2 linked regions of the Homo sapiens genome follow. The protein of the gene in region 1 purifies or fractionates together with the protein of each later gene. This does not show direct contact. Each region holds a gene or a part of one and is shown on either strand. Other genes may lie near its edges. The genes, in order: ATF7IP and GTF2E2.

The links.
Region 2: the proteins of ATF7IP (region 1) and GTF2E2 purify together in Homo sapiens (affinity purification with western blotting, with the first as the bait; one study listed by BioGRID). This does not show direct contact.

The regions. Positions count from the first base shown.
Region 1 is NC_000012.12:14,494,359-14,498,181, reverse strand, and holds part of ATF7IP (activating transcription factor 7-interacting protein 1), read right to left. Parts: intron 1,952-3,823; coding exon 1,839-1,951; intron 529-1,838; coding exon 109-528; 3' UTR 1-108. UniProt on the Homo sapiens protein: Recruiter that couples transcriptional factors to general transcription apparatus and thereby modulates transcription regulation and chromatin formation. Can both act as an activator or a repressor depending on the context.
Region 2 is NC_000008.11:30,609,426-30,613,248, reverse strand, and holds part of GTF2E2 (transcription initiation factor IIE subunit beta), read left to right. Parts: intron 1-767; coding exon 768-950; intron 951-3,823. UniProt on the Homo sapiens protein: Recruits TFIIH to the initiation complex and stimulates the RNA polymerase II C-terminal domain kinase and DNA-dependent ATPase activities of TFIIH. Both TFIIH and TFIIE are required for promoter clearance by RNA polymerase.

The sequences.
Region 1 (3,823 bases):
CAAGAAATCTTGCACAAGGTGGATTTTACATGGGGTATCATGCACAAGATTAAAAACAAGACCAAAAGGTGGAAATTTTAAAAGAGGAAAATATAAAGGCTCCAAGGTTTAACTGCTCTGGGTAGAAGAGATCACATCTGTTGACTGAGGATCACAGAAAGGCCCAAAACGTCCATAAATATCCTTGGCTCGTACTGCAAAGTAGTATTTGCTACCAGATACAAACTGGGTGAGAGTACATGCCATGGGCAAGGGAAGTGCCTTGACTTCCCCAATCTTTTTCCATTGTGAGGGCACAGTGGCACTGGGTTCCTCATGGTAAGCATAGAGATGGTAGCTATCAACAGTGGCACAGCTTCGATCCACCTCCAGGACACTCCATGACAGTACTATGCCATTTTGACTCTGAACGCGTGCTAACTTCAAGTGTGGCTTCTGAGGCAGAGATGTGCTGGCAGCTTCTGGGGGCAGACGCTGTGGTTGTGGAGCTTCTGGTAAGGGTGCTGGGTGCACGGGGCGTGGGGGCTCCTGAAGAAACAGGTCACACTGATTAATGATGATTGCAAAAAGAACTATTTTAGAATGTTAGAATTAAAACACCTTAGAGAACATACGTAGAAGTATCATTTTATATCAAGAATTCTAGGAAATACCAAATACCATATCAAATTTGGCAAGTTCTATTTGGGGTTTTGTAATGAATCATGCTACAAACAATGATGCTGAGGTTATTCCTACTATACTTCCTAGACCTAAAATATTTTGAGTTTTTCTTAGGAAATAAAAAGCCCCTGCTGACGGAACATCATTTTGAGGAACACGGAAGTAATGATCTATTTCTAACAAAATAATTTATGATTGAATTATCTATGTTACAGATTATCATTTCAGTATGATGTAACATTTTTAAATATCATGTATGGCAACCAAGATCATATAAAATTGGAGAATACAAATATACTTTCATTTTTAAGTTATTTATAAATAAGCACATTAACACTAAATGTGTACTATATTCTTGGCCAATTTACAAGAAAAAGGTGATATTTAAACTCAACTGTGAAGGAGGATCCAGAGATGCAGAAATAATCATGTACCTTTCAGCCAAAAATAAAGCATGAGCAAAGGCATGTGGACAGTAAAGTGAGGGGACGTATGGACAAGAACAAGTATTAACTTTTTCTTGGACATAGGGTACATGAAGAAAAATCTGGAAAGGTAGGTTAAGGCCAGATGATGAAAAAACATGACTCTAACTTTAGGAAGTCCTATTGACTTTTCTAACACTGGAACATCATCATCATTATAATGATATTTCATACCAGTCAAACACTGACAAAATTGTGTCACAGGATAATGTGACATTGTTTTGGAGGCTAAATCTAAGGAGAAATCTTTGGTTATCTCTGTTACCTCTTAACTAATGAATTCCCAATATCATTGGATTCTTTAGAACAATTAATTGATGACAATGTAGCAGTTAGATGTGGCATAGTTTAGAACGAAAGAATAAAATTAACACATGGAGAAATGAAAAATGTCCTTTTTAATTTAACTATGAATTAGAAATGGTCTATATTTCACTTCATATACCCCAACTGTGGACCTGTTTTTGTACACTGTACACCACAAGCAAACTCAATGATTCTAAATGATCATCATCCCTAGGAACTATGTGTTCATAATGGTAAGATCAATTTTTAGAAATAAACTTCTGAAAAAGCAGGAAGACCTAACACTTCCCTTGGATATAACCATTTTAAAGAAAAATGCCAAATACAATAATATTTTATACCTCTACAGTTGAGAATTTTGCAAAACCAAGCATCAACACTTACAGTATGCACTTGTGGTGGTCGGTGATGCACTGTGAGCTGAGGTCCTGTTGATCCCAGGGTTAGTCCATTGTTTACAACATATGTGGTTGTTTGAGGCACTCGAACTGTAACACCTACAAACAAACAAAAAAATTACAGGATAAAATGATAATTCTATTGTAAATTTGGTGGAAAACTGATTAAATATTTGAAGGCAGTGAAGCAATGTTTTCAAGATTCGAAAGGAAAGATATTTCTAACCTAGAGGTCCTGTTCGTATTCAGCCAAGCTATCAATCAGCCTGTGGATAAAAAAACTTTCTTACATGCAAGCACTAAAAAAAAATTCTAACTACCACAAACCCTTTCTCAAATAGTCAATGGAGAATATGTGCCACCAGTACGTGAGAAAATAAAGAGAAAAACACGAGACACAAGCAACAGGAGGTCCAGCACAGGGAGAAATAAATGGATCGTTACCAGGAGAACTATGAACAAAAATCCTAGAACACTGGTTGTGTACCACATGTAAAAGGTAAATGGCCATAATGGAGCAGTGTGACTCAAAAGACAGACAAACTGGGAGTATCTTCATAAAAATCTCTGCAGTCTCATCTTTTCAACCAGGACAGAAAGCCAGAATAAGTCATCCTTGCCATGTATTAATGAGGTTCCTCTCATTTTCTCCATGCCCAGCTCCTTGGTTGAGGATACTCACTTCACCCCACAGAAAACTGCTGTGACATACACCAGGGAAACAAAAAGAGAAAATTTAGAGCCACCTACTGCCCTAACTATATTCCTGCCATTTATTCAGTACCTGGCCCATGCTGTAGTTCGGCCTGGTTCCTGGACTATAGTGAGCCAAGTTTCCCAGAACTCATTTCTAACCTTGTTGATTAATTTTCCCAGACAACGCTCTTGTAAACTTGAGAGAGTTGAAGCCAAGCTATGATCCAGGGACTCCAATCAGTTTATTTTCTAAATGATAGCATTACTGTGTTTCTTTAAATAGCTATATTTTCCCTTGCTGTCACATTTTGCAAAACTACAACATATGTGTGATGGTTAATACTGAGTGTCAACTTGATTAGATTGAAGGACACAAAGTATTAACCCTGGGTGGGCCTGTGAGGATGTTGCCAAAAGAGATTAACATTTGAGTCAGTGGACTGGGGAAGGCAGATCCACCCTTCATCTGGTGGGCACAATCTAATCAGCTGCCAGAAAATATAAAGCAGGCAGAAAAACGTGAAAAGGAGAGACAGGCTTAGCCTTAGCCTCCCAGCCTACATCTTTTTCCTGTGCTGGATGCTTCCTGCCCTGGAACATTGGCCTCCAAGTTCTTCAGTTTTGGGACTCAGACTGGCTTCCTTGCTCCTCAGCTTGCAGACAGCCTACTGTGGGATCTTTTTTTTTTTTTTTTTTTTTTTGAGACAGAGTCTGGCTCTGTTGCCCAGGCTGGAGTGCAGTGGCATGATCTCGGCTCACTGCAACCTCCGCCTCCTGGGCTCAAGAGATTCTCCTGCCTCAGCCTCCCAAGTAGGTGAGATTACAGGCTTGTGCCACCACACCCAGCCAATTTTTGTATTTTTGGTAGGGATGAGGTTTCACGATGTTGGCCAGGCTCATCTCGAACTCCTGACCTCAAGTGATCTGCCTGCCTTGGCCTCCCATACTGCTGGGATTACAGGCGTGAGCTACCATGCCCAGTCTATTGTGGGAACTTCTGATTATGTAAATTAATACTTAATAAACTCCCCTTTATATATATAAACATTCACTATATATAAAGTATTTTACATATATTTAATATTTATATATAATTAAGATATACTGTATATATATAGTAGGATATAAAGTATATATACAATTAGTTTATATGTAGTATATATTTTATGTATATACCCTATTAGTTTAATACATATATAATATATAAAATATATATATCCTATTAGTTTATATATAGTATATATTATATGAATACTATATATAGGAAACATATGT
Region 2 (3,823 bases), on another chromosome or scaffold:
GAAGACCATTGACTAGTAAGGGTTATGTTCCTTACTTTATAATGCCAGTATGTGATAAGCTGTACTTTGCAGATGGAGTGGGCACTACTCAGTTCACTTTGTCTATTAATATTTGTAGGTGTTTTATTGATTCCTACACATTTTGACTACTAGAAGAATATGGGTTCAGCTTTTTTCAAAGTAGTTGTGATAAAATGGTTTATTTCTCTTCAAAGAATTTATGTAAATAAAACACAGTTTCTTTTATAAAAAGTGAGCACCGTGCTGATCTACTGTTCTGGAATTCTGGATGTCCAGGATTTTAGGCCTGCCAGTTTGTATTCATAAGGTACTTTTAATTTGCCACTGTATTGGCTAGTGTTGTATTTTAAAATAATTAGTAGAATTAAGAATGTGTATATGGGCTGGGCACAGTGGCTCACGCCTATAATCCCAGTACTTTGGGAGGCTGAGGTGGGTGGATCACCTGAGGTCAGAAGTTCAAGACCAGCCTGGCCAATGTGGTGAAACCCCGTCTCTACTAAAAATACAAAAATTCGCTGGGTGTGGTGGTGCGCACCTGCAGTCCCAGGTGCTGAGAGGGAGGGAGGCAGGAGAGGGAGGCTGAGGCAGGAGAATCGCTTGAACCCAGGAGGCGGAGGTTGCAGTGAGCTGAGATCACGCCACTGCACTCCAGCCTGGGCGACAGAGCAAGATTACGTTTCAAAAATATATATATATATTTATGTTCCATTTGTTAATATATTCCAATTGTATCACTGTTACAGGCTTTAGTCAACAATCCCAAAATTGAAGTAATAGATGGGAAGTATGCTTTCAAGCCCAAGTACAACGTGAGAGATAAGAAGGCCCTACTTAGGCTCTTAGATCAGCATGACCAGCGAGGATTAGGAGGAATTCTTTTAGAAGACATAGAAGAAGCACTGCCCAATTCCCAGAAAGCTGTCAAGGTAATCTCTCTTTTCTTTCTATGTCTTAATATAATTTGAATGAATAATGACTTCTTGGTTTTAAAAATATCAAACATTTTACAATTGTTTTTAAAGCTTCTATTATATACACATGGGTTACAGTGAGCCACTTGAAGGTTTGAAATTTGTCTTGTGCCACCTAGCAGGAAAGGGAGCAGCCATCTCTGTGTAACTTTGACGGGTTCTTGTTGCTGTTACTATATGATTGTTTGATTGTTCAGGCTATTTCTGGAAAATTTTCCTCAAAGGCAATAGAGTTTCTCTTGTAAGCTCTGTTTGTAAATAAGAGTGTCTTCTATAATACTAGTAGATGTTCCTTACCTGAGGAACTAGAGGCATTAAAACATGAAAGCATTGGTTAATAACCTGGCTGTTTTGAAGTCCTAAAGGGGCTATCTATGAAAGTCCTACTGATACAGATGACATTTCCAGTTTAAATTTGAAACTCACTGGGGAAAGCTGCTTGTTTCCATTTGTCACAGTTGCTCATTATTAATGTTAACTTGTTAAGCAGGTTCATTCATTTTGCTGCCTGTAGAAGAAAACTTGCCCCTTTGTCTCTTCTTCTTGGTAATGGAATTATACATGTCAGATCTTCTGGTATTGTACTACAAGTCCCTGAGGCTCTGTTTATTTATTTCAATTTTTTTTCTGTTCTATTAATCCATTGTCAAGTTCACTCACTTTTCTTCTTCACTTCCAACTTGTTAAGCCCAGTTGGTGAATTTTTTAATTGTATTTTTCAGTTCTAGTCTTTCTTTGTAAATTTTTCTTCTGGTTTCTGTTTCTTTGCTGAATTTTGTTTTCTTTTTTTTCCATTCGTGACAAGTATCTTTTGTTACACCCTTAAGTATGATTTCTTATAGCTGCTTTAAAATTCTTCTTATTCTAACAGCCGAGTCATCTCAGAGCTGGTCTGCATTGACTGTCTCTTTTATGGGTCATATTTTCCTGTTTCTTCATATATCTAATACATTTCTGTTGGGTCTTAGACCTTGTGGATTATATTAATATGTGTAAAGACTCAGGATTCTGTTACATTCCTCCCAAGAGTGTTTCTATTTGTTTTGTTTTGTGGTTAAGTGGGCAGTTACTCCAAACCTTGTCTGCCCTACAGCAGGTAGCATATGATATGTCTCTTCTGTTCTTCTAGCCTTAGCCCGTTTGCTTGGAATCTTGGAATCTTTTTCCAAGACTGGCTTATTTCACTTAGCATAATATTCTCAAGGTTCATCCATGTTGTACTTGCAACAGGATTTTCTTCCTTTTTAAAGCTGAATAATATTCCATTGTGTTTTTGTTGTTGAATTGTGGGAGTTTTAAAAAATATATTCTGGATATTAATTCCTTAACAGATACATGATTTGCAAATATTTTCTCCCATTCTGTAGGTTGCCATTTTACTCTGTTGATTGTGCTCTTTAATTTGCCAGTTTCTGAGTTTGCTGCACTCTTGTCTATTTTTGATTTTGTTGCCTGTGCCTTTAGTATCATGTTTAAATCACTGCCAAATCTAATGTCATGAAGCTTTTGTCCTATGTTTTCTTCTAGGAGTTTTATAGTTTTGGGTCTTAGGTATTTAGAGTTAATTTTTGTATATGGTGTAAGAGTCCAACTTTATTCCTTTTCATGTGGATATCCAGTTTTCTCAGTGTCTTGATGAAGAGACCGTCCTTTGCCCATTGAATAGTCTTAGTCTTGGTACTCATGTGGAAGATCATTTGACCATATATGTGAAGGTTTATTTCTGGGCCCTCTATTCTGCCTGTATGTCTTTCTTCATGCCAGCACTACAATGTTTTGATTAATGTAGCCTTTTTTTTTTTTTTTTTTTGAGACAGAGTCACACTGTCACCCATGCTGGAGTGCAGTGATGCAATCTTGGGTCACTGCAACCTCTGCCTCCCAGGTTCAAGCAGTAGTCCTGCCTCAGCCTCCTGATTAGCTGGGATTATAGGCACACACCACCACACCCAACTAATTTTTTTATTTTTGGTAGAGATGTGGTTTTACCATGTTGGCCAGTCTGGTCTCGAACTCCTGACCTCAAGTGATCTGCCCACCCTCGGCTTCCCAAAGTGGTGGCATTCCAGGTGTGAGCCACTGCACCTGGCCTGATTAATGTAGCTCTGTAATATATTTTGAAATCAGTAAGAGTGAGATCACCAATTTTGTTCTTTTTCAAGATTGTTTTGGCTATGTATTAGTCTATTCTTGCAATGCTATAAAGGAATGCTTGAGACTGGATAATTTATAAAGAAAAGAGATTGATTTGGCTCACAGTTCTGCAGGCTCTCCAGGAAGCATGATGCTGGTGTCTACTCAGCTTATGGGGAGGTCTCAGGAAACTTATAATCATGGCAGAAGGTGAAGGGGAAACAGGCTCATCTTACATGGCCGGAGCAGGAGCAAGAGAGAGTGGGGAAGGTGCCACACACTTTTAAATGACCAGATCTCATGAGAACTCATTATCAGGAGAACAGCACCAAGAGGGAAATCCACCTTCATACCAGTCACCGCCCACCAGGCCCCACCTCCAACATTGGGGATTACAGTTTGACATGAGATTTGATGGGGACACAGATCTAAACCATTTCAGGCTTTTTGAGGTCCCTTGAGATTTGATATAAATTTTTGGATGGATTTTTCCATTTCTGCAAAAAATGCCATTGGGATTTTGATAGGGATTACCTTGAATAGGTAACTTTGGGTAGTATTGCCATCGTAACTGTATTAAGTTTTTTAATACATGAGCACAGAATTCATTTATTCATGTCTTTAATTTTTTTTAGCAATGCCTTCAGGTTCTTTCATTTATTTTATGTATGTACAATTTGACTGTCCCTTATCTG